Homo sapiens: one gene and its partners. The protein of the gene in region 1 purifies or fractionates together with the protein of each later gene. This does not show direct contact. Each region holds a gene or a part of one and is shown on either strand. Other genes may lie near its edges.

Region 1 (3,716 bases):
TTGTTGCACAAGTTCAACGATGTGGTGTGGCATGTGAGCTGGTCCATCACAGCCAACATCCTGGCTGTCTCTGGTGGAGACAATAAGGTACATACCCATTCCCCGTGGCATGGTGGACACAGCCTGTTGGTCTTCACCCCGCCCACTAGAGAGGGCACTTGACATTCCCATCTGACTGCAGGCTGGGCAGGAGCCTTAGCCAGGACTGCGTTTTGAGTGTGCCTCTTAGTTACATCATTAATGTCACAGCCCCTGAGGTAGTATTAACACGTCCCCCTTTCACAGATGAGGAAAGAAGCTGACAGAGGCGATTTGACTTGCATGGGGGTCCCAAAACTATGAGGTGGCAGAGCCAGTCAGGCCCATCACCCTACTAAGCATTTGGTCACCTCATGGTGATGTTCAGTTAGCTGTGCCAAAAAGGCAAGTGTATAAGAACCCATAAACAGAAGAAGATTGGGGATATTTTTTGTCCATAACACTGAAAAGGCTTTTTAAAAACCTTTAGAGTTTATGAATACTTGTTATGCTGGTAAGAGGCAGGTACACAGTGGGTGCACTGGAAGAGTTTGCATTTTGCAGCTGAAAGAGTTCTGGAGACCAGCTGCTCAGGGACCCAAATGTACTTCACACAACTGGACTGTGCAGTTAAAAGTGGCCAAGGTCATTTTATGTGACGTGTATTTTACAATTAGAAGGAAAAAAGCTACCCGCAGAAAGGAAGCAGTAACAAGCCATAGCCATCTGCCCAGCTGAATTCCCCTATAAGACAGAGGATCTCTAACGCCGCAGGGTCAGTTCCACGTGGAGTGGCTGTGCTGCGTTTTCAGGCACATCTGCTCTGCGCCTGAAGTGCGAGTTGGTCTGGATCCTGCCAGCCCTTGCTGCTTCTCTCCCTTGCCTATGTTGGTCTTTTACTGTTTCCCAGTGGCCACTTTGGCTCCATGTCTTACCTTTCATTTGTGTGGCTCACGGCACAACCAACACAGGCAAGGCAGAGAAGCAGCTGGTCTCCAGAACTCTTTTCAGCTGCAAAATTGAAACTCTGTACCCATTAAATAACTCCCTTCCCCATTGCCCCTCCCCAGCCCTGGCAGCCACCCTTCTCCTTTCTGTCTATGTGAATGTGACTGCTCTAGCGACCTATCTAAGTGGAATCATACAGTATTTGTCCTTTTGCGACTATGTCACTAGCAGTATGCCCTTAAGGTTCCTCCATGCTGTACGTAGCATGTGTCAGAATTCCTTCCTTTGTAAAGCTAAGTAGTGTTGCATTGTATAGACAGCCCACACCCTGTTTCTACACTTATTCCTCCACCAAAGGGCACCTGGGCTGCTGCCACCTCTTAGCTATTGCGAATAGTGTGGCTGTGAACATGGGTGTGCAGATCTTGAGAGCCTCTGCAGGCGGCTTTTCTGGCCGAGGGTCCCTTTCATCTACAGTGGTCCCAGAAAGATCTAGCAGGCCCCCTCTCAAAGCCATATTTCTAGTGAGTGCCAGAGTCAGGACCAGAACCCAGGTTGATGGCACTCAGGGCAGACCAAGGGACCCAGATTGCCTCAAGCAGGCCCCCAGTGACTTTTTTACAAGGCTGTAAGCAAGTGCCTGGCTGTGCACGCAGTGTTGTGGGGCCCGTCACTGTGCATTTAGGCTTCTTGCTCTTCTTTACAAGCCTGTTTCCTTTCGCTGTCTCCATAGCACCCTTACCTAAAGGACTTAGTATGTTTTCAATCCCAGAGCATTCTGCAGTGTGTTGAGTGAATAGTTTGTCCCTAAAGCAAGAGTTCTTAAAATCAAAATCGTTATTTTCATTTTTAATCAAACTAATATATGTACATAGGTTTAGATTGTTTTTGTTTTTTGTTTTGTTTTTTGAGATCGAGTCTCGCTCTGTCGTCCAGGCTGGAGTGCAGTGGCGCAGTCTCGGCTCACTGCAACCTCCGCCTCCTGGGTTCAAGCGATTCTCCTGCCTCAGCCTCCCCAGTAGCTGGGAGATTACAGGTGGCTGCTAGTTTTTTTGTGTGTATTTTTAGTAGAGATGAGATGGGGTTTCACCAGTTCAGGCTGGTCGCGAACTCCTGGCCTCAGGTGATCCACCCATCTCAGCCTCCCAAAGTGCTGAGATTACAGGCGTGAGCCACCATGCCCGACCTAGACTGATTTTTTTTAATGCAGCCTCCTAATTTTCTCTCCAGGGGCAAACCTTTTCAGCTCTTAGCTATTTCTTATACAGTTTACTTCAGTGTAGAAACAACATATTGAACTGTTACCTTCCTCTACCACAGTAGTTTTCAAACTGCAGTGTTGTTAAACCTGTTAAAACAGATTGCCAGCCCCACCCCCAGAGCTTCCTAATCAGTTGTTCCAGGCCCCAAGAATCTGCAGTTGTAGCAAGCTCCCAGGTGACCGATGCTCTGCTCTGGTCTGGGGACCACACTTTGCGAACCCTGCTCCCCGCCACCCCATATCCTCTCGCTGTAGCTCTGTCACAGTTTGCTGAAAACAGTATCCTGTGTTGACATCATCATCCACAGCTGCTGTTATTGTTACTCCTTTTTTTCTGTGAGTTTTTATTCCTGGACTCTCATTTTGGTGAGATTTCAGTGGAGGAGGGACATGCTCTGTTCACCCACAAGCCTCTGGGCAGTGGTTCTTGATGAGGATGAGGCTCATATTTAGGGGACAGCAGAGGGAAGGGCACAGACCCGTGATAATCTGCTTGTGCACTGACTCGCAGGTGACCCTGTGGAAGGAGTCAGTTGATGGGCAGTGGGTGTGCATCAGTGATGTCAACAAGGGCCAGGGCTCCGTATCAGCATCAGTGACAGAGGGCCAGCAGAACGAGCAGTGACAAGACAGGTGGGGCCTGGCTCCCCACCCGCCAGCTCCAGGACTGCCCCTTCCTGGGCCAACTAACCAGACAACTGGGAAGAGCCCCCAACTCCAACAGGATTATTTTCCCAGGAGGAGTTACAGATGCAGCCACAGATTGATCATCTGCCTTAACGTGATCGGAGATGCTTTGTAATCTACTGTCCAGCTGAAAGCACTCATGTTACGAGGAAGAAACTACAAGTGATGTTCAAATCTATTTTGGGTCATTTTTATGTACCTTTGGGTTCAGGCATTATTTGGGGGGTTTTGTTTCCAAAGGAACTAAATAAAGTCATATTGCTTATAATTCCTGCTGCGTTATCCTAACCACCCCACCCCACCAGCTCAGTTTGACTCTTGTCGGTCCACGCACTAGAACAAACTATTCACAAAGGCCACGGCTGTGATGGCCTGGCTTAACCCCACGCACAAAGGTGGCTTGTCACTGCATGAGCATCTCTGATTCAGTTTATACTGAAAGCACCATACAGAGCACTGGACTCAGCCTTTGGTGACAAGGACTGTAGCCCTGGGTCTGCTACTTACCCTCTCGGTACACATCCTGTTCTGCAGAATGGGACTAATACAGTCTGCCCTACAGGATGGCTGCAAGATTCAAACACGCTAGTGCATCTGGTGACCTACAAAATGCCACGCAGGTGCAACGTGGTATTAACCAAACACCAATAGTTAAGATGCTGGCCCAGAAAGTGGGCACGATTCATTTAGTTTATTGACCCTGTCAGGAAAAGGAGGGCCCCATGATGGGAGACCTAACTGACCCTGAACCAGGTATCACCTTTCAGCGGAGGCCCTGTGACCCTGACAATCGCCATAGCCA
Region 2 (7,034 bases), on another chromosome or scaffold:
TAAAACAAGTGATCGGTTATATATTGATTGGTTGAACAAAATATGACCAGAGGCTTGCAGGAACCTAACCCTGTATTTCCCCTAGGAGCAATGGTTCAATATTCACTAATTCAGTATTCAAGGCACTGCACTCCAGCCTGGGCAACAAGAGCAAAACTCTATCTCAAAAAAAAAAAAAAAAAAAAAAAAAAAAATCACAAATATATAAACATATACATACTGATAACTCCCAACTTTTCCTCTCTAGCCCAAACTTCCTTGTCTGAATTCCAGCTTTGTATATCCAAGTGCCTAGTCAACATCTCCACTTAGATCTTGAATAGGCATCTTAAAACGTAACATGTCGGACAGGCATGGTGCCTCACGCCTGTAATCCCAACACTTTGGGAAGCCAAGGAGGGTGGATTGCTTGGGCCCAGGAGTTTGAGACCAGCCTGGACAACATGGCAAAACCCCGTCTCCACTACAAATACAAAAATTAGTTGGACATGGTGGCACGCCTTTGTAGTCCTGGCTACTTGGGAGGCTTAGGAGGGGAGGATCACCTGAGCTTAGGCGGTCAAGGCTGCAGTGAGCTGTAATCTGACCACTGCACTCCAACATGGGCAACAGAGACTTTGTCTCAAAACAAACAAACAAACAAACAAAACAAAACACACACACACACGAGAGAAACATGTCTAAAATTAAATACCAGTTTGCCTCCAATTCACCAACCTTATCCTCCCACATTCTTCTATTTCTTGCATGCCCACATCAAATCAATCCATCAGCAAACCCCATCAACTCTCTTCAAACATATCTAGCCTACACCACCACCATCTTTTACCTGGCTTAGTACAGCAGAATCCAGACTGGCCTGTTTCCATCCTTGCTGTAGTCTCAACATGGCAGCCAGGACAGCCTTTGGGAACCTAAGTAAGATCTCAGGCTTCCTCTGCTCAGCTCTCCAATGCCCCCTCACCCCATATGGCTTAGAAGTAAAAGACTAGCTTTTACTGTGCATCAACCGTGTCAACTACTTCACCCACATTTATGTCCTTTAACTAATTTAATGATCACAACAGCCCCATGGGACAGGTATTATTATCTCCACTGGACAGATGAGGACCCTTAAGGCCGTTAAGTAGCTCACTCAAGATCTCACACCTAGTGACCGGGCACAGTGGCTCACACCTGTAATCCCAATACTTTGGGAGGCCAAGGCAACAGGACTGCTTGAGGCCAGGAGTTCAAAAAATAAAAAAATTTGGCTGGGCATGGTGGCTCAAGCCTGTAATCCCAGCACTTTGGGAGGCTGAGGCAGGCGGATCACTTGAGGTCAGGAGTTCGAGACCAGCCTGGCCAAAACAGCAAAACCCCATCTCTACTAAAAATAAAAAAATGAGCCAGGCAGGATGGCGAGAGCCTATAATCCCAGCTGAGATCGCCCCACTGCACTCTGGCCTGGGCAACAGAGTGAGACTCTGCCTCAAAAAATAAATAAATAAAAATAAAAAATAATTGGGTTAGCCGGGCGTGGCGGCTCACGCCTGTAAACCCACCACTTTGGGAGGCCAAGGCAGGCAGATCACAAGGTCAGATCGAGACCATCCTGGCTAACATGGTGAAATCCCGTCTCTACTAAACAAAATTAAAAAATTAGCCAGGCGTGGTGGCAGGCGCCCGTGGTCCCAGCTACTCGGGAGGCTGAGGCAGGAGAATGGCATGAACCCGGGAGGCGGAGCTTGCAGCGAGCCGAGATCGTGCCACTGCACTCCAGCCTGGGCAATAGAGCGAGACTCCAGCTAAAAAAAAAAAAAAAAAAAAAATTGGGATGGTGGGATGGAGGGAGGCAGGCAAATCACTTGAGGTCAGGAGTTCAAGACCAGCCTGACCAACATGATGAAACCCCATCTCTACTAAAAATACAAAAAACAAAACAAAACAAAACAAAAACCAGCTGGGCATCATGGCGTATACCTATAATCCCAGCTACTTGGTAGACTGAGACAGAACTGCTTGAACCAGGGAGGCAGAGGTTGCAGTGAACTGAGATAGCGCCACTGCACTCCAGCCTGGGCAACAGAGAAAGACGCCATCTCAAAAAATAAATAAATAAATAAAAACTTTAGCTGGTGGTGGTAACACATGTCTGTGGTCCCAGCTACTTGGGAGGCTAAAGTAGGAGGACCACTGGAGACCTGGAGGCCAAGGCTACAGTGACTGGTGATTGTGCACTGCAGCCTGGGGAACACAGTGAAACTGTATTTAAAAAAAAAAAAAAAGGCCAGGCATGGTGGCTCATGCTGGTAATCCCAGCACTTTGGGAGGCCAAGGTGGGTGAATCACAAGGTCAGGAGTTTGAGACCAGCCTGGCCAATATGGTAAAACCCCATCCCTACTAAAAATACAAAAATTAGCTGGGCATGGTGACGCGCGCCTGTAGTCCCAGCTACTCAGGAGGCTGAGGCAGAAGAATCACTTGAACCCCGGAGGCAGAGGTCGCAGTGAGCTGAGATGGCGCCACTGCACTCCAGCCTAGGTGACAGAGAGAGACTCTGTCTCAAAAAAGGAAAAAAACCCACCTCACAGCTAGTAAAAGGCAGAGCTGGAATGCTAACCCAGGCAGTGTGGCACCACAGACCATGTTGTTAGTCACCCTGCTATGTAGGCTGCAAAAAGCTAAAGTCTCAGTGACAGCCCAGGGGGCTGTCTCAGACCTGGCCTGGTATCGCTCTGTCTTTATCTCCCCAGCTCATCCCTCCCACCTACCCCTACATAGCACAGCCCCTCCTGCCCCACCCTGGCTCTAGAACACAGCATCTACAGGCCCTGCTATCTGGAATGCTTTCTTCAGCCTAGCTCTCCTCACCTCCTTCAGGTCTCACCTCCAATCTCTCATGAGGGAGGCCTTCTTCGATGCCCCTCCAGCACTTGCAGCCTCCCTCCCTTCTTGGCACCTTGGCAGAGCATTTCACTATGTGCCAGGATACATGGTACTAGCCTATGTGTTGCTGTTCTTTCTCCACACACAGGATATAAACTCCATAAAGGCAGGAATCTTTGCCTGTTTTAGTCATGGTGTCTCCTTGGTGCCTTGCAAATAGTAGGGACTCAATAAATACTCAGTGAATGACCAGGAATGGTGGCTCACACTTGCAGTTCCAACACTTTGGGAGGCCAAGGTGGAAGGATTGCTTGAGCCCAGGAGTTCAAGACCAGCCTGGGTAATACAGTGAAACCTCACCTCTACAAAAAATAAAACTAGCCAGGCGTAGTGGTGTGCGCCTGTAGTCCCAGCCACTCAGGAGGCTGAGGTGGGAGGATTGCTTGAGCCCAGGAAATCAAAGGTGCATTGTGCCATGATCGCATCACTGCACTCCCGCCCAGGCCGCAAAGCGAAACCCTGTCTCTAAACGACAACAACAAACCTTAGCGAATCAATCAGAGACTCAAACATTTGGCCCACTACTTCCTGTGAGCCACCGTGCCGGGCCGAATTCCAGGTTTTCTTTTCTTTTCTTTTTTTTTGTCCTCACAATCTGTTCCCAATTTCAGGCTTTATAAGTTTAGTTGACTTTCCATTAGCCCAGTCAACTAGCGATCTCCTCCCTGCCACCTCCCAATTGGGTCAGTCAGCAGAGGTGAATGGAAATACCTAACACATAGAAAATACATCCATATACACATATACGACATGCTGACTTCGAAACTGATGATCCAAAGTAATGTGCAAGCTCATTTACATCCAACCCTGTATGCACCCCAGCCCCTGTCAATTGGTTTTATATCATTACCCAGGCATGGTGGTTGGCACTTGTGGTCCCAGCTACTTGAGAGGCTGAGGTGGTAGGACCGCACAGGAGGCGGAGGTTGCAGTGAGCAAGATCAGGCCACTGCACAACAGCCTGGGGAACAGAGTCGGACTATCTTTTCTCTTTTATATTTTTATTTATTAATTTGTTTTGAGATGGAGGGTCTCACTTTGTTGCCCAGGCTAATCTCAAACTCCTGGGCTCAAGAGATTCCTGACTTGGCCTCCCAAAGTGCTGGCTGGAATTACAGGCATGAGCCACCGCACCCAGCCGAGACCCTGTCTCAAAAAAAAAAAAAAAAAAACGGTTTTGTATTCCTTTTTGTGTCTTCTCTTCCTTAGATCCACAAAGAAATCAAATTTCCTTTTACCCTGGAAAAGTCTTCAAAGCATTATTTTTCTTACATGGTACCTCGGTTTTAGACTCTCCCATAGAGCAGGGAAGAAAAGATCCAAAAGAGTCTCCATAGTAACAGACTCCAAAAGCCAGCCTACTGCTGGAGGCTCAGTGGGTGTCCTCAGACCCACCCGGCAGCACCAGGGACAGTAGGACACATGGTGGGAGGTGGGGGCCCGGCCTGTCTTACCAAGTTCCAGAAGCTGTCATGTTTGCTTGGATTCTCACTGCCCAGAACATCTGCCGACAAACTGTCCACCTCGCACACATGGAGCCGGACCCAGTCAAGGAGATGGAGGAGGAGAGGGCCAGCTGGGAGGAGAGACTCTCATCACACACAAAAGCCTCAGCTTCATCTGCAGCAAGTTCCTTTATCCAAGGAACAGAGAACTTTAAGGCAGACAAGCTGACTACATAGGTTTATCCCTTTTAAGCAGTCACACACATGGTCCTGAATGACAGACTGTGCTAGGAAAAAGCAAATGCACTTTCACCAAATATTACTTCTGTGCCAGGCAGCTCCATCTTTAACTGACCCCAGAAAGGGGTGAACATGGAATGCAGACCTCACTACCCCACACTCCAGATTCTTCACAAATACTTAATAGCTACATAAGTAATGGCCGTTTAGGAACCAACAATGACTAGATAGCAAGCAGCCAGGTATGCAATGATGATAAAAACATAGGGCCAGGGGGCTGGTGGTGCACACCTGGAATCCCAGCACTTTCGGAGGCTAAGGCAGGTGGATCATCTAAGCTCAGGAGTTCAAGACCAGCCTGGACAACATGGTGAAACCCTGTCTCTACTAAAAATACAAAAATTAGCCGGGCGTGGTGGCGCATGCCTGTAATTCCAGCTACTCAGGTGGCTAAGGCAGAATTGCTTGAACCCAGGAGGCAGAGGTTGCAGTGAGCCAAGATCGCACAACTGCACTCCAGCCTGGGTGACGGAGTGAGACTCTGTCTCAAAAAACAAAACAAAACAAAACATATGGCCGGGCATGGTAGTTCATGTCTGTAATCCCAGCACTTTGGGAGGCTGAGGCAGGCAGATCGCTTGAGCCCAGGAGTTTGACACTAGGCTGGGCAACATAGGGAGACCCCATCTCTACAAAAAAAAATAAAAAATTAGCCGAGCCAGGAATGGTGGCTCACGCCTATAATCCCAGCATTTTGCGAGGCCAAGATGGGCAGACTGCTTGAGCCCAAGAGTTCAAGAACAGCCCGGGCAACATAGCGAAATTTCCTCTCCACAAAAAATACAAAAATTAGCCGGGCGTGGTGGTGCAGGCCTGTGGTCCCAGCTACTTGGGAGGCTGGGCAGGAGGATTGCTTGAGCCCAGGAAGTCGAGGCTTCTGAGCTGTGATCACGCCACTGTACTCCAGCATGGGTGACAGAGCAAGACCCTGTCTCCCCTCCCCCAGCATATACACACAAAAAATTAGCCTAGCATGGTGGCACGTGCCTGTAGTCCCAGCTACTCAGGAGGCTGAGACAGGAGGATCGCTTGAGCCTGGGAGGTCCAGACTGCAATAGCTGTGATTGTACCACCACACTCCAGCCTAAGTGACAGAGTGAGAACTTGTCTCAATCAATCAATAAAAATAAAATGAAATAAAATGGCAGAGTACAGCCAGCACTCCGTATCCATGATGTAGAACCTGCAGATACAAAGAGCCAACTGTAACCTCCTCAAAAATCCACTGGAGAAGGGAGGCCTCTGAACAACCAACTCTAATTTCAAGTTCCTCACTTCTTTAGTGAGAGTATGAATAAAATGCTAGGGCTACACAGAGGTTACTACTCATTTATGGAAAATAGCAAACATAAATCCTTAAAAGAAATGCAAAAAAGCTGCAGCAGATCCACAGAGAGCTCATACAGGCCATGACACTATACTGACCACAGTTTAATTCAAGATCAACAGAAGGCTGGGCACGGTGGCTCACACCTGGAATCCCTGCACTTTGGGAGACCGAGGCAGGCAGATTACCTGAGGTTGGGAGTTCGAGACCAGCCTGACCAACATGGAGAAACCTCATCTCCACTAAAAATACAAAATTAGCCAGGCGTGGCAGCGCATGTCTGTAATCCCAGCTACTCAGGAGGTTGAGGCAGGAGAATCGCTTGAACCCAGGAGGTGGAGGTTGCGGTGAGCTGAGATCACGCCATTGCACTCCAGCCTGGGCAACAAGAGTGAAACTCTGTCTCAAAAAAAAAAAAAGATCAACAGAAAAATTCCCATTGGCAGAGTTCATACCCATTGGCAGAGTTAACACACAGAGTTGCCCTGTCCCAATGATTCATGACAGAATTCCCAATGTGACTTTGCCTCTCACCACCTAATCCTACCCCACATTCATAAAACTTTCTTAAGCTTGGCCAGTCCATGATGTTAACACTGACACCCCCTTTCACACACTAGTTTAATATTTCTCAGTACTTGTCAGGGTTTAGGTTTCTTGGAGGCACTCTGCATGATTCTTTTTGCAGCACCTGACAAAACGGTCAGGTTTCTTTGGGTGTTTTCTAACGACTTCCCGTGGTTATAATGATGGAAAGAACATTCTCAGGAATAAAACACTCATCACCATGCACAGGAAAGATGAGGAAAGAGCAGAAGATGGAAGGGGACACCTATGAGATTATGGTGAGATATTCCATGCCTACCTGGGGCCACTTCAATAAAAAGAATCTCACACAGGTTCCAGATGAGCTCCATTGCTGACAAAATGGAGACCTAAGGAAGAAATGGGGACAGGTTTCACCTGAAATGATTCCTGAGCTTTGCTCTCAGAGCCAAGGGATAAAGCAGACTTTGACTCATATGACAGTCAT
Region 3 (7,034 bases), on another chromosome or scaffold:
CGCAGCAATTTCAGCAGTGGCCCCGGCTTCCCAGAGTATGGCTACCCTGCCGACACCGTCTGGCCTGCCATGGAGCAAGGTGTGTGCTCAGCAGGACAGAGGGATACCGGCTAACCCCACTGGGGCGGCCACCCAGCCTGGCATCTGAACACGGGAGTCAGGGCTGGGATTGGAATTGTGATGTCCTGGCCTGGCTCTGACCCAATCCGTCCTTCCGAGAAGCAGGGTGTGTCAGGACGGGCCGATGCTGTCTCTTCGATTGCAGTTTGGTTTAAGGCCTGAGAGCTGCCCTGCCTGCCCCGACATGCGTTTTAAAGTGTGACTCTGAGGACAGCTCATATCCAGGCTCTGGGCAGCCCCTGATCACATCCCCATCGCAGACCCCGTGGCTCAGCAGGCGTGCAGGAGGGAGCTGCTCATTCCCCTTGGAGACTCCGCTCCTGCAGTTGTCCCGCGTGTCAGTCAGAGTTCCCTTCCAGGATGCTCAAATGCTTTTTCTTGGCAAATTGCAGAAATATACGTAAAGATATAAAGTTACAGAATTTAATGGTAGGCTGAGTTTTTTTGTTTGTTTGTTTTTTGGTTTTTTTGAGATGGAGTCTCACTCTGTCTCCCAGGCTGGAGTGCAGTGATGTGATCTTGGCTCACTGCAACTTCTGCATCTCGGGTTCAAACGATTCTCCTGCCTCAGCCTCCTGAGTAGTTGAGATTACAGGTGTTTGCCACCATGCACAGCTAATTTTTGTATTTTTAGTAGAGATGGGGTTTTGCCATGTTGGCCAGGCTGGTCTCAAACTCCTGACCTCAAGTGATCCATCCTCCTCGGTCTCCCAAAATGCTTGGATTAGAGTGTGAGTCACTGTGCCCGGCCTTACTTTCTTAAAGTATTGTTTCAGTTAACATTTTTTCATTTCTTTTTTTTTAAGAGACAGAGTCTCACTCTGTCACCCAGGCTGGAGTGCAGTGGCACGGTCATGGTCTCTGTCTCCTGGGTTCAGGTGGCCCTCCTGCCTTGGATCCTTTCAAAGTGCTGGGATTACAGGCATGCACCACTATGCCTGGCTCCTTATTTTCTTTTTTGCTTGAGGTGTTTTGCTGTCCTTTTTGCTGGGTGCTGTGTGGTCATCGCAGTCTGAATTTGATTTTGTGAAAATGGAAGAGCTCGGGAGTGGGCCAGGCCTGGGAGGATTACGCACCGTGGCAGGAGCCTCAGGGCGGCTCATGAGGGTGTTGCGGGAGCTTTCTCAGTGTACAAGGGAACAGCTTTCATGCTTAATGATTCAGACATTTTTCTTTTCCTGACGTATGCTGAAGTTCTACTTTTAAGTATGATATTAAACAATTACCGACTTTTGAGTTGGAAGTCTGTCGTGATAAATCTAACCTGTGATTTAAGCTGTGTGAGCACATTGAAAATCTAGGCTCAGAAGCATCAGTGACAAGCTGATTGTTTCTTTTTCAATTTATTTTAAATGCAGTTTCATCAAGACCAACTTCTCCTGAAAAATTTTCAGTGCCTCATGTCTGTGCCAGGTTTGGCCCTGGCGGTCAGCTTATCAAAGTGATTCCCAATCTGCCTTCAGAAGGACAGCCGGCCTTGGTGGAGGTCCACAGCATGGAGGTAATGGCACACGCAGAAGCGTGGCGTCACTGCTCTGCTGCCCTGGGGAACTCTCTGCTTTGCAGTTTGTCATCTTCAATTGTCAGACCTTGTCTCTGGACATACGTCCTTGGAAAATGTTTATTCCTGTGAATTTTCAATTTGTAGGGTTTTTCTTCTATTTGATCATATATTTTTCCTCCTAGAAGTCAGTATTGTAAGCGTCTGCCTTGGGTGTTCAACGTGGTTTGATTGTATATGCATTTTCTGTCCTCGTTTTGGGGATGTTTGCTTTATTGGTGCTTTTCAATGATAGATGCAGTGGGTGGGCCCGGTGCTGCCCAGGTGAGGGGGGCGGGTGGGGTGGACGTGCACGGCGCTGCCGAGGTGACGGGGGCTGGCATGCGCCTCTTCCTGCAGCTTCTGCAGGCTTCTGTCACATGTATTGGGGTTCTGCCTCAGTATTTGGGGAGAGAAAATGGATTTCACTACTTAAAATAAAGTTTGAAATCATGGCTGTGGTCCACACAGGCCATGTTCCATGTAACAGCCTCGACAGAGCCTTCACCTGCTGTGGGGCGGGGCAGGTGGGCCATGCCATCCTCTCCTCTCACGGGCAGCATCCGTGCCTGGGTTGGCCGGCCTGCCAGCAGGGTGGCTGCGCACTGGCTGCCACTGACCCACGGCCCTCTCCTCGTAGGCCTTGCTGCAGCACACGTCTGAGCAGGAGGAGATGCGGGCGTTCCCGGGACCCCTGGCCAAGTATGTTCCTTGTTGAGGCATTTCTTTGTGAGCCCGGCCTTGCAGACATCACTGCTCACTGTGTGTTCTTTCTGCAGAGACGACACCCATAAGGTGGATGTCATTAATTTTGCACAGAACAAAGCTATGAAATGTTTGCAGAATGAAAACTTAATTGACAAAGAGTCTGCAAGTCTTCTTTGGAATTTTATTGTTCTCTTATGCAGACAAAATGGGGTATGTTTCTTTCTACTTCTAGAGTGTTTCTTCTTGCTGGTCTTCATTTCGTCTTGGGAATGCTCAGCCTCCCGAAGGAGCAGGGCGGGATCCGCGTGGCCAGCTATGGGAGCCTCGAGGGCCCCCTTAGGAAGCACACTGTAGTGGCTGGGTAGGGAGGGAGAGGGAACGTGCGGTTGGGATGGGATGAGGTTTCAGCCCAGCCTTGCCAGCCTTTCGGGTAGTTGTGGGTCTGGCTGTGTCCAGGGTGGGGCTTTGTGCCTGTGGTGGTCCAACGCGTCCTCACCTGAGAGCCGTTGTTCTCCTTCCTGTTCCTGTTGACCCAAACAGACCGTGGTAGGGACCGACATTGCGGAGCTTCTGTTACGAGACCACAGAACAGTGTGGCTTCCTGGGAAGTCGCCCAATGAAGCAAACCTGATTGATTTCACGAATGAGGCAGTGGAGCAGGTGGAAGAGGAGGAGTCTGGTGAGGCCCAGCTCTCTTTCCTCACTGGTGGTCCGGCGGCTGCCGCCAGCTCGCTCGAGAGAGAGACCGAGAGGTTCAGGGAGCTGTTGCTGTATGGCCGTAAGAAGGTGCGCCTCCTCATCATGGCACCTGGCGCCTGCACATGTCCACTGGGTCGGGCCTGGTGCGGGGTTGCAGCCTTCAGGGAGGGACGTGGCCCCCTCTTGGGAGCATCCGCGCTGCAGTGTGGGGCTTCGGGTCTTGCTGTTTCCTGAACAATGCCTGACTCTTGTATGCCATCCTTCTGGAGGTGTTAATGTTGGTTTCCTTCTAACTGTTTCCAGTGTTGGAGACCTGCAGATTAAATTTTCAGTTATTCGATAAATGCACATGTTGAGCACAGGCCGTGCCCCTGCTGTGTGTGCCAAATCTCGGATGAAATGTGCATGACACAAGTTGTGGCATTCTCACAAAGTCAGACTCGAGTCCACAGCCCAGAAGTCATTGGGAGTTGGGAGGGCACACTGAACCTGTCAGAGGCGCAGTGCATGGAAAGGCCATGGGCAAGAGAGCAGCCAGTGCGTGTAGCGTCCAGTGACTGGGGTCACAGCAGCGTGGGGACTGGGGCAGGTGGGGGGCCTGAGACAGGAGCCTGCTCTGGGACAGTGGGGTTGGGGGGTCCATAGTGACTGCAGCAGTGACACTATGTGCACAGGAGGGGCTGTCTAGGGTGCATGATGTTTGCTTTGGATGTGCTAAGCAGGAGAGAGGCCAGTCTCAGAAGCATGTGTGGCCCTGAACAGCAGAGACATGGGATAGGCTGAGAGTTTTCTGTCCTTTTATATCATGATAAACTCAGAAAGGGCATATTTGACCAGTATTTTTATTTTTTTATTTTTAATTTTTTTTGAGACAGGGTCTCACTCTTGCCCAGGCTGGAGTGCAGTGGCGTGATCACAGCTTAATGTGGCCTCGACCTCCTGGGTTCAAGTGATCCTCCCATCTCAGCCTCCTGAGTAGCTGGGACTACAGCTGCATGCCACCACGCCTGGCTAACTTTTTTTTTTTTTTTGTAGAGACGGGGTTTCACCATGTTGCCAGGCTGGTCTCGAATTCCTGGGCTCAAGCAATCCGCCCACCTTGGCCTCCCAAAGTGCTGGGATTATAGGCATGAGCCACCGCGCCCGGCCTGATCAGTATGAGTCTATTATGGATGTTTTATAACTGATTGAAGTCATGTAACCTGTTAGCTTTTATTAACATCTTTCTCTACTGTAACGTTTTTGCCTCCCAGCCAGAAGTTCTAAATTATGCCCTGGATGATTTTGGTGAAAGGGGAGGCTGCCTTACTGGAGTCACTCTCCGTGTTGACAGGATATTCGCGGAGGCCTCCTGTTAGAACTGGGGAGTTGACTCGAGCGTGTTTCCCAGTGGATGGGGCGGCGTGGTGGGCAGCGCTGCGTGATTAGCCCTGTTTGTGATTAGCGTGCTTGTGTTTTATGCTGAAAATGGATAAAAGCAGCAAATATCTACAAATACCCACTACCACAGGGACTTTGAAACTCAGGAAAATAATGAATCGCTACGTGTCTTTAGTCTCCAAATGGTGAATAAGTGTGTTTTTGAGGCCTTTGGGTTGTTTGTGTATCTGCTGCTGCGTGAGGACACATGGCCTGTCTTGACTCATGTCACGTGAGCGCCGCCGATAACCCACCAAGGTCCCTGAAATGCCTTTTGCAGGATGCTTTGGAGTCTGCAATGAAGAATGGCCTGTGGGGTCACGCTCTGCTACTTGCAAGTAAGATGGACAGCCGGACACACGCCCGAGTCATGACCAGGTACAGTCCCACAGTGGCCTGGTCCAGTGGCGAGCCCTGCTGGCTCCCTGTAGCACGCGGCGTCCGCACCCTGGGGGCAGGCGGCAGGCGGATCTCACTTGACTGTGCTGTGCTCCCACACGAACTCGGGCTTCCTTGGCCTCGAGGCTTCCTTGGGTCGTGTTGTGGAGAGCTTAAAAAGTTTTTAATTAACTGCATGGTTTTTAGTACTTCATGTAAAATCTCAGTGAATTCCTCAGTCTTCATCTTTTATAGCTTTTTTTAAATTTTGAGTTTTGCTCTGTTGCCCAGGCTGAAGTGCAGGGGCGCGATCTCAGCTCACCGCAACCCCTGCCTCCCAGGTTCAAGTGATCCTCACGCCTTGGCCTCCCAAGTAGTTGAGACCACAGGCACCCACCACCACACCCAGCTAATTTTTTGTATTTTTAGTAGAGGTGGGTTTTGCCATGTTGGCCAGGCCGGTCTCAAAACTCCTAGCCTCAAGGGATCTGCCCGCCTTGGCCTTCTGAAAGTGCTGGGATTACAGGCGTGAGCCACCATACCTGGCCTTATCTTTTACAGCTTTTTTTTTTTTTTTAATATTGAGATAAGAAAGAAAAATAAAATATTGAGATGTGTGTACTTTGCCTAAGTGAAATATAAGTCTAATCATTACATCAGAGGGCTTAGGGCTGATTTTTTAAAAAATTTATTTTATTACTATTTTATTTATTTATTTTTTTGAGACAGAGTCTTGCTCTGTCACCCAGGCTAGAGTGCAGTGGCACGATCCCAGCTCACTGCAACCTCTGCCTCCTGGGTTCAAGCGATTCTCCTGCCTCAGTCTCCTGAGTAGCTGGGATTATAGGTGTGCACCACCACACCCGGCTAATTTTTGTATTTTTAGTAGAGATGGGGTTTCTCCATGTTAGTCTCTTAACTTCTGACCTCAGGTGATCCGCCCACTTTGGCCTCCCAAAGTGCTGGGATTACAGGCGTGAGCCATCATGTCCGGCCGGCTTTTTTCTTTTAGCTGAGCCAGCATGGGGTCTTTCTGTGTTTATGTCTGCCTAGGTTTGCTAACAGCCTCCCAATCAACGACCCTCTGCAGACAGTCTACCAGCTCATGTCCGGACGGATGCCTGCCGCGTCCACGGTGAGTGGCACTGCCTGGTGGCTTGCACAGGCTCCACTGCCTGTGTGGAGTTTGCTCGTGGGTGACGCTGTCACAGGCCGTGAGGTGCCTGGTGAGCCCAGCTGTGTGGAATTGAAATGGCGCTGGCTTCCGGGGATGAGGCTTCGTTTTGTTTTTCCTCATGTTAGTGCTGTGGAGACGAGAAATGGGGAGATTGGAGGCCGCACCTCGCCATGGTCTTGTCCAACTTGAACAACAACATGGACGTCGAGTCCAGGACGATGGCTACCATGGGCGACACTCTGGGTAGGTCAGGGGTGGAGATGGGCATTGGGTGTCGCGGATGGAGCGCCGAAGGCCCGGTTGTCTGTGGCGTTGGCAGAAATCACCAGAACCCGGCCTTCTCGGTCCGGCTGGCGTCTCTGGTGCCTTCTGTGCGCGTCCTTGACTTCTGCAAGCGCTCCCGGTCGCTGAGCCCCCGCCGTGTGTCGTGTCGTCTCTCCGCAGCTTCAAGGGGCCTCTTGGATGCGGCCCACTTCTGCTACCTCATGGCCCAGGCGGGATTTGGTGTTTACACGAAGAAAACTACAAAGCTTGTCTTAATCGGATCCAATCACAGGTAAAGAACCAAGTCAGTGTAGTCCTGTAAGTTTTCCTTTCAAAGTAAAACAAAATCCTTCTCCTTTAGTGAATTCAGAAATGGCCAGAATCATGTCTTTATTTGTCACGTGGTGGGACACACTTCTGGATGATTTGCTCCAAGGTTGACTATGCCAATAATTGGCCATTTTTTCCAAATCAAAATAATTCACTTCCTCTACAGTTTGCCATTCTTAAAGTTCGCAACCAACGAAGCAATCCAGAGGACGGAAGCCTATGAGTACGCCCAGTCCCTGGGTGCCGAGACCTGCCCCCTGCCTAGTTTCCAGGTAAGCAGGTGCTGCCAGCCTGCAGCTGTCATGGCTGGGCAGGCACTCAGTGCTAACAAGCTTTTGGCTACTTAGATTGTTTGAATTGGTATCGAAAAAAATGATGTGAGTTTTTTGGGGGAGGATC
Region 4 (7,034 bases), on another chromosome or scaffold:
GGTAACAGAGCAAGACGCTGTCTCAAACAAAAAAAAAGAACATCATACCCTCTCTAAAAATCGTATCTCCTTTTCTTCCTAAAAATTGTTGCTCAAGCCTCACCTGCTTTCACAAGACTGCCGCACACCCTTAAACTCTTTATTAGTATAAAAACACTTTAAAGGCCGGGCACGGTGGCTCATGTCTGTAATCCCAGCACTCCGGGAAGCAGAGGCGGGCAGATCACGAGGTCAAGAGATCGAGACCATCCTGGCCAACATGGTGAAACCCCGTCTCTACTGAAAATACAAAAATTAGCTGGGCATGGTGGTGTGTGCCTCTAGTCCCAGCTACTTGGGAGGCTGAGGCAGGAGAATCACTTGAATCCAGGAGGCGGAGGTTGCAGTGAGCCGAGATCGGGCCACTGCACTCCAGCCTGGCGACGGAGCCAGAGTCCATCTCAAAAAAAATAAAACACTTTACTTCCCCTCTTCCTTTCCAACCCCGATTACGTAAACTAGTGTCTCTCAGCTGCTTTTAGTTATGCAATATATTTGTTATTATACCTGCCACCTGAGTGTTTTACCTGTCTGCTGCTCTGGGTAAAAAAAATGTCTTGACTTTGCTCACTGGGTGTAAATTAATTTTAAATAGTCCATAGCATCTTACATAAGCTCCTTCCTAATAGCACTGAGCAGCATTTTTTTCATCCCCTTAACATAACCCTAATCATTTTAGAGTGAAGAGTATATTAGCTTTGGTGTGAGACATCTGTATTTAAAACTGTCACTCGGCTAGGCGCGGTGGCTCACACCTGCAATCCCAACACTTTGGGAGGCCAAGGCTGGTGGATCACCTGAGCTCAGGAGTTCGAGCCCAGCCTGGCCTACATGGTGAAACCCCCTGTCTCTACTAATACAAAAATTAGCCTACATGCCTGTAATCCCAGCTACTCAGGAGGCTGAGGCAGGAGAACTGCTTGAACCTGGGAGGTGGAGGTTGCTGTGAGCCCAGATTGCGCCACTGCACTACAGCCTGGGTGACAAGAGTGAAATTCTGTCTCCAAAAATAAATAAATAAATAAATTTCTAAAAGTGAAAGGATATATACCTAACTATTAAGAATCACTGTATAAGGCTGGGCACGGTGGCTCACGCATGTAATCGCACCATTTTGGGAGGCCCAAAGTGGGCGGATCACCTGAGGTCGGGAGTTCAAGACCAGCCTGAGAAGCAAGGAGAAACCCCGTCTCTACTAAAAAATACATAATTAGCCAGTTGTCGTGACGCATGCCTGTCATCCCAGCTATTCGGGAGGCTGAGGCAGGAGAATCGCTTGAACCCAGGAGGCAGAGATTGCAGTGAGCCGAGATCGTGCCACTGCACTCCAGCCTGGATAACAACAGTGAAACTCCATCTCAAAAAAACAACCAAAAAAAAACCTGTCAGTTACCATCATTGACTCTTAAAATCTAAAGTTAATTCAAAATAAAAAGTTAAAAAAATAAAAAATTCCTCTGCCACTTGCTACTGTAAGTCATAATATTCAATCTCTCAGACCTCAATTTCTACATCTGAACAATAGGGATTGTACAGCCTACACCAAAAGACTGGTAGGAGGACAAAGCTGCCTCAAACTAGAGCTCCTCAAAAGCAGCATTTTGTTTATTTTTCAACAGGTATTTTACAGGTATTTATAATTTAAAAAGCATAATAAATGTCCCCTCACTCTAAACTTTGGTTCAATGGCTAGCTAGAATGCCATAATTTCTTATTTCTCAATGCTTAAGTGTCATCCACTGATCACTCAGCACAAGCATAAAGCACCACTGCAAACAAAAACAAATCCCATCCCTGCACAAACACAATATATTGAGATTACTATGATCATTCAACCTCTTCCATCTATCTCACATCTCTGTCTTTATTCCCAACTATCCATCTTTTTAATTTACAAATTCATTTACCTATTTCTTTTTTTTTTTTTTTTTTTTGGTTTTTGTTTTGAGACAAGGTCTCACTCTGTTGCCCAGGCTGGAATGCAGTGGCATGATCATGGCTCACTGCAGCCTGGACCTCCTGGGTTCAACTGATCCTCCCACTTTAGCCTCCCAAAAAGCTGAGACCACAGGCATGTGCCACTATGTTGCCCAGGCTGGTCTCTAACTCCTGGACTCAAGCCATCTTCCTGCTTTGGCCTCCTAAAGTGCAGGGATTATAGGTGAGCCCCTGTGCCAGGCCCATTTACTTATTTTTTATTTATTTATTTTTTTGAGACAGTCTTGCTCTGTTGCCAGGCTGGAGTGCAGTGCAGTGGCATGATCTCAGCTCACTGCAACCTCTGCCTCCTGGGTTCAAGCGATTTCCCTGCCTCAGCCTCTCGAGAAGATGGGACTACAGGCACCCACCACTATACCGGGTTAATTTTTTGTATTTTAGTAGACATGGGGTTTCACCAAGTTGGCCAGGATGGTCTCGATCTTCCGACCTCGTGATCCGCCCACCTCAGCCTCCCAAAGTGCTAGCATTACAGGCGTGAGCCACGGCACACAGCCCCATTTACCTATCAAGAAGGTTGAGTGTGCAAATACTAGTAAGCTCTGTGTCAAACGAAGTAAAATTAAAGATGTGAAGTGATGAGTGACTGTAACATTTACTGAGGATGAACTGTTCCCTTCACGAACAGACCAGCCCTAATTCAGGTGCTCAATTCTTTTCCCCTTGACTAATGATTTTCAAATATTTTTTAGCCATGAAACCCGACATATAAAACAGACATAAGCAGAAGCTGCTCTGGCTGAAGTGAAGAGGGAGTAGGTACAGTAGAACCCCACCAGCTCTGCCCTATGAAGCAGCTTAGGGCTCTATGAACCAATGTGAAATATTGTTCTAGATTAGTGGTTCTCAAAGTGTGACCCAAAGACCCCTAAAAGTCCCCAACACTTCTTCCAGGGGTTCAATGAAATCAAAACCATTTTCACAATAAAACTAAGACACTTTGCCCTTTTTCTTTACTGTTCTGACCTCTGTGCTGATGTGCAAAATCAATGGTGTGCAAAAATGCTGGGAACTCAGCATGAATCAAAGCAACAACCCCAAATGGTGCTGAACTAACACTCACTGAATTCTTCACTGTCACCCATTTACAATATAAAAAATTCCACTTTCACTTAAAAGGGTCCTTAATGAAGCAGCAAAAATTATTAGTTGTATTATTTCTCAACACTACAGCACAATTCTTTTTAATTCAGTATTGGGAAATACTCAAAAACTTCTGCTTACTGAAATACAAAGGATATCAAGGGGCAAACCACCTGTAATTACTTTTGAAAGCTAAATGTAGTTGTTTTTCTCATGGAACACCATTTTAATTTTTTTTTTTTTTTGAGACAGAGTCTGGCTCTGTTGCCCAGGCTGGAGTGAAGTGACGCAATCTCGGCTGACTGCAAGCTCTGCCTCCCAGGTTCACGACATTCTCCTGCGTCAGCCTTCCGAGTAACTGGGATTACAGGCGCCCGCCACCACGCCCAGCTAATTTTTTGTATTTTTAGTAGAGACGGGTTTTCACCGTGTTAGCCAGGATGGTCTCGATCTCCTGACCTTGTGATCCGCCCCCCTCAGCCTCCCAAAGTGCTGGGATTACAGGCGTGAGCCACTGCGCCCCGCCCACCATTTTAATTTCAAAGAATGATTGACAAACTATGGTTATTAAGATTTGGTACTGGCTGGGCATGGTGGCTCACACCTGTAATCCTAGCAGTTTGGGAGGCCGAGGCAGGTGGATCACTTGAAGTCAGCAGTTCAAAACCAGCCTGGCCAACATGGTGAAACCTCATCTCTACTAAAAATACAAAAAATTAGCCAGGCATGGTGGTGGACGCCTGTAATCCCAGCTACTTGGGAGGCGGAGACAGGAGAATCAGTGGAACCCAGAAGGCGGAGGTTGCAGTGAGTTGAGATCCCACCATTGTACTCCAGCCTGGGGGAAAGACCGAGACCTCGTCTCAAAAAAAAAAAAAAAAAAAAAAAAAGAAAGGCTGGGCATGGTGGCTCATGCCTATAATCCCAGCATTTCGGGAGACCGAGGCAGACAGATCACGAGGTCAGGAGTTGAAGACCAGCCTGACCAACATGATGAAACCCTGTCTCTGCTAAAAATACAAAAATTAGCCATGTGTGGTGGCACCTGCCTGTAATCCCAGCTACTCAGGAGGCTGAGGCAGGAGAATTGCTTGAACCCAGGAGGCGAGGTTACAGTGAGCCGAGATCACGACACTGCACTCCAGCCTAGGCGACAGAGTGAGACTACATCTAAAAAAAAAAAAAAAAAAATTTTGATACAAAAATTACAACTACAAAAACATGCATTCGGCTGGGCGCAGCGGCTCATGCCTGTAATCCCAGGACTTTGGGAGGCGGAGGTGAGCGGATCACGAGGTCAGGAGATCGAGACCTTCCTGGCTAACACGGTGAAACCCCATCTCTACTAAAAATACAAAAAATTAGCCGGGCATGGTGGCACGCCCCTGTATTCCCAGCTACTCGGGAGGATGAGGCAGGAGAATGGCGTGAACCCGGGAAGTGGAGCTTGCAATAAGCCGAGATCGTGCCACTGCACTCCAGCCCAGGTGACAGAGTGAAACTCCATCTCAAAAAAAAAAAAAAAAAAAAAAAAAAAAAAACATGTATTCACCACTATCAGGTCATAAGCTTCTCAATTCTTAAAAAGACTTATCTGATGAGATGGGTGGAAACAGAAACAACTGTATAATTAAATTTGTCAACATCTGGAATATCTGGGCCAGGCCTATGGGGCTCATGCCTGTAATGCCAGCTCTTTAGGAGGCCGAGACGGGAAGATCACTTGATGTCAGGAGTTCCAGACCAGCCATGGTCAACATGTTGAAACCCCGTCTCTACAAAAAATACAAAAATTAGCCAGATGTGGTGGTACACACCTGTAGTCCCAGCTACTCAGGAGGCTGAGGCATGAGAATCACCTGAACCCGGAATGCAGAGGTTACAGTGAGCCAAGATTGTGCCACAACACTCCAGCCTGGGTGACAAAGCAAGACTCTGTCTCAAAAACAAAGAAACAAACAAACAAAAAAACAACAAAAAAAGAAGATCTGCATAACTCAGTAAATCAATAATTTCAAAATCAACATGCATCATGTTATAAAATCACAGAAGTGTAAAGGTCTATTCAAAGTACAACACAGACCAATGGTTTTTAATACAACAGAATACAAAAGTTCAATGACACAGTTTCAGATTCCATACTGTAATGAACCTTTAAAAAGGTTTGAGGCCGGGCACGGTGGCTCACGTCTGAAATCCCAGCACTTTGGGAGGCCAAGGCAGGCGGATCACTTGAGGCCAGGAGTTCAAACCCAACATGGCGAAACCCCGTCTCTACTAAAAATACAAAAAATTAGCCCAGCGTGGTGATGTGCACCTGTAGTCCCAGCAACTCAGGAGGCTGAGGCAGGAGAATTGCTTGAACCTGGGAGGCGGAGGTTGGAGTACGCTGAGATAGCGCCACTGCACTCCGACTTGGGCGACAGAGCACGACTCCGTCTCAAAAAAACAAACAAATAAAAAGGTTTGACTGTAGTGTCAAAGAGCAGTTAGAATTATCTGAAAAGGCCATTAAAATACTCCTCTCTTTTCCAACTATGTATCTGTATGAGGCTAGATTTTCTTCACATACTTCAAACAAAACAACATAATATATGTCAGAATGCAAAGACTGGTACATTTAGAGGTCTTCTTTTTATGATATGGAGTCTTGCTCTGTCACCCAGGATGAAGCACAGTGGTGCAATCTGCGCTCACTGCAACCTCTGCCTCCTGGGTTCAAGCGATTCTCTGCCTCAGCCTCCCAGTAGCTGGGACTACAGGTGCGTGTCACTGTGCCCAACTAATTTTTCTATTTTTAGTAGATTCAGGGTTTCACCATATTAGCCAGGATGGTCTCAAACTCCTAACCTTGTGATCCACCCGCTTCAGCCTCCCAAAGTGCTGGATTACAGGTGTGAGCCACCACACCCGGCCAGCTACCACTATATTTTTAAGAATTTTTCTTTCCTTACTAAAAAAAACTGCAAGTATTTCCCATTACACTGAATTAAGTACAAATTCCTCAATGTGGTAATTATGGCTGGGCATGGTGGCTCACGCCTGTAATCCCAGCACTTTGGGAGGCCAAAGCGGGTGGATTGCTTGAGGTCACGAGTTCCAGATCAGCCTGGCCAACATGGTGAAAGCCTGTCTCTACTAAAAATACAAAATTAGCTGGGTGTGGTGGCACGCACCTGTAATCCAGCTACTCGGGAGGCTGAGGCAAGAGAATTGCTTGAACCCACGAGGCGGAGGTTGCGGTGAGCCAAGATCACATCATTGCACTCCAGCCGGGGCAACAAGAGCGAAACTCTGTCTCAAAAAATAAATAAATAAATAAATACATGTGAAATATTTTCACTAAAGTAGTAGTCTCAATCAAGGGCAATTCTGACAATTTCTTCAGACATTCCTGATCGTTACAACCTGCAGAGGATGTGTTATGGGTATCTAATGGGTAGAGGTAGGAATGTTGCTAAATATCCTACAATATACAACAGAGCCCCCACGATAATTATCTGGCCCAAAGTCTCAAAGTTCCAAAGCTGAGAAACCTTTCTCTAGAGCCATACTGTGCCAAATACTTACGGTCAATTTCAAACAAAAAGAATGCACCAAGTTCTCAGGAAATGTTTACCTACCTTGCCTCTAATACATACTGTTTTGTTTTGTTTCTTTTCTTTTTTTCTTGAGTCAGAGTCTCGCTGTCGCCCAGGCTGGAGTGCAGTGGCACAATCTTGGCTCACTGCAACCTCCGCCTCCCGAGTTCAAGCAATTCTCCTCCCTCAGCCTCCCGAGTAGCTGGGGCAATGGGCGCATGCTGCCACGCCCAGCTAATTTTTCATATTTTTTTTTAAGTACAGATGGGGTTTCACCATGTTGCCCAGGCTGGTCTCAAACTCCTGAGCTCAGGCAATCCACCCGCCTCGGCC

What was found.
Region 2: the proteins of SEC13 (region 1) and NUP85 purify together in Homo sapiens (affinity purification with mass spectrometry; 7 studies listed by BioGRID and IntAct, with this or other methods). This does not show direct contact.
Region 3: the proteins of SEC13 (region 1) and SEC16A purify together in Homo sapiens (co-immunoprecipitation; 5 studies listed by BioGRID and IntAct, with this or other methods). This does not show direct contact.
Region 4: the proteins of SEC13 (region 1) and NUP98 purify together in Homo sapiens (affinity purification with mass spectrometry; 6 studies listed by BioGRID and IntAct, with this or other methods). This does not show direct contact.

Annotation. Positions count from the first base shown.
Region 1 is NC_000003.12:10,300,397-10,304,112, reverse strand, and holds the end of SEC13 (protein SEC13 homolog), read left to right. Parts: coding exon 1-87; intron 88-2,738; coding exon 2,739-2,852; 3' UTR 2,853-2,965; coding exon of another isoform or gene 2,966-3,007; 3' UTR 3,008-3,182; downstream 3,183-3,716. UniProt on the Homo sapiens protein: Functions as a component of the nuclear pore complex (NPC) and the COPII coat. At the endoplasmic reticulum, SEC13 is involved in the biogenesis of COPII-coated vesicles.
Region 2 is NC_000017.11:75,215,656-75,222,689, reverse strand, and holds part of NUP85 (nuclear pore complex protein Nup85), read right to left. Parts: intron 6,937-7,034; coding exon 6,867-6,936; intron 4,506-6,866; coding exon 4,384-4,505; intron 1-4,383. UniProt on the Homo sapiens protein: Essential component of the nuclear pore complex (NPC) that seems to be required for NPC assembly and maintenance. As part of the NPC Nup107-160 subcomplex plays a role in RNA export and in tethering NUP96/Nup98 and NUP153 to the nucleus.
Region 3 is NC_000009.12:136,459,007-136,466,040, reverse strand, and holds part of SEC16A (protein transport protein Sec16A), read left to right. Parts: coding exon 1-79; intron 80-1,478; coding exon 1,479-1,621; intron 1,622-2,300; coding exon 2,301-2,362; intron 2,363-2,439; coding exon 2,440-2,578; intron 2,579-2,908; coding exon 2,909-3,154; intron 3,155-4,766; coding exon 4,767-4,864; intron 4,865-5,917; coding exon 5,918-5,999; intron 6,000-6,166; coding exon 6,167-6,284; intron 6,285-6,485; coding exon 6,486-6,597; intron 6,598-6,801; coding exon 6,802-6,907; intron 6,908-7,034. UniProt on the Homo sapiens protein: Acts as a molecular scaffold that plays a key role in the organization of the endoplasmic reticulum exit sites (ERES), also known as transitional endoplasmic reticulum (tER).
Region 4 is NC_000011.10:3,787,549-3,794,582, forward strand, and holds part of NUP98 (nuclear pore complex protein Nup98-Nup96 isoform 1 precursor), read right to left. Parts: intron 1-7,034. UniProt on the Homo sapiens protein: Plays a role in the nuclear pore complex (NPC) assembly and/or maintenance. NUP98 and NUP96 are involved in the bidirectional transport across the NPC. May anchor NUP153 and TPR to the NPC.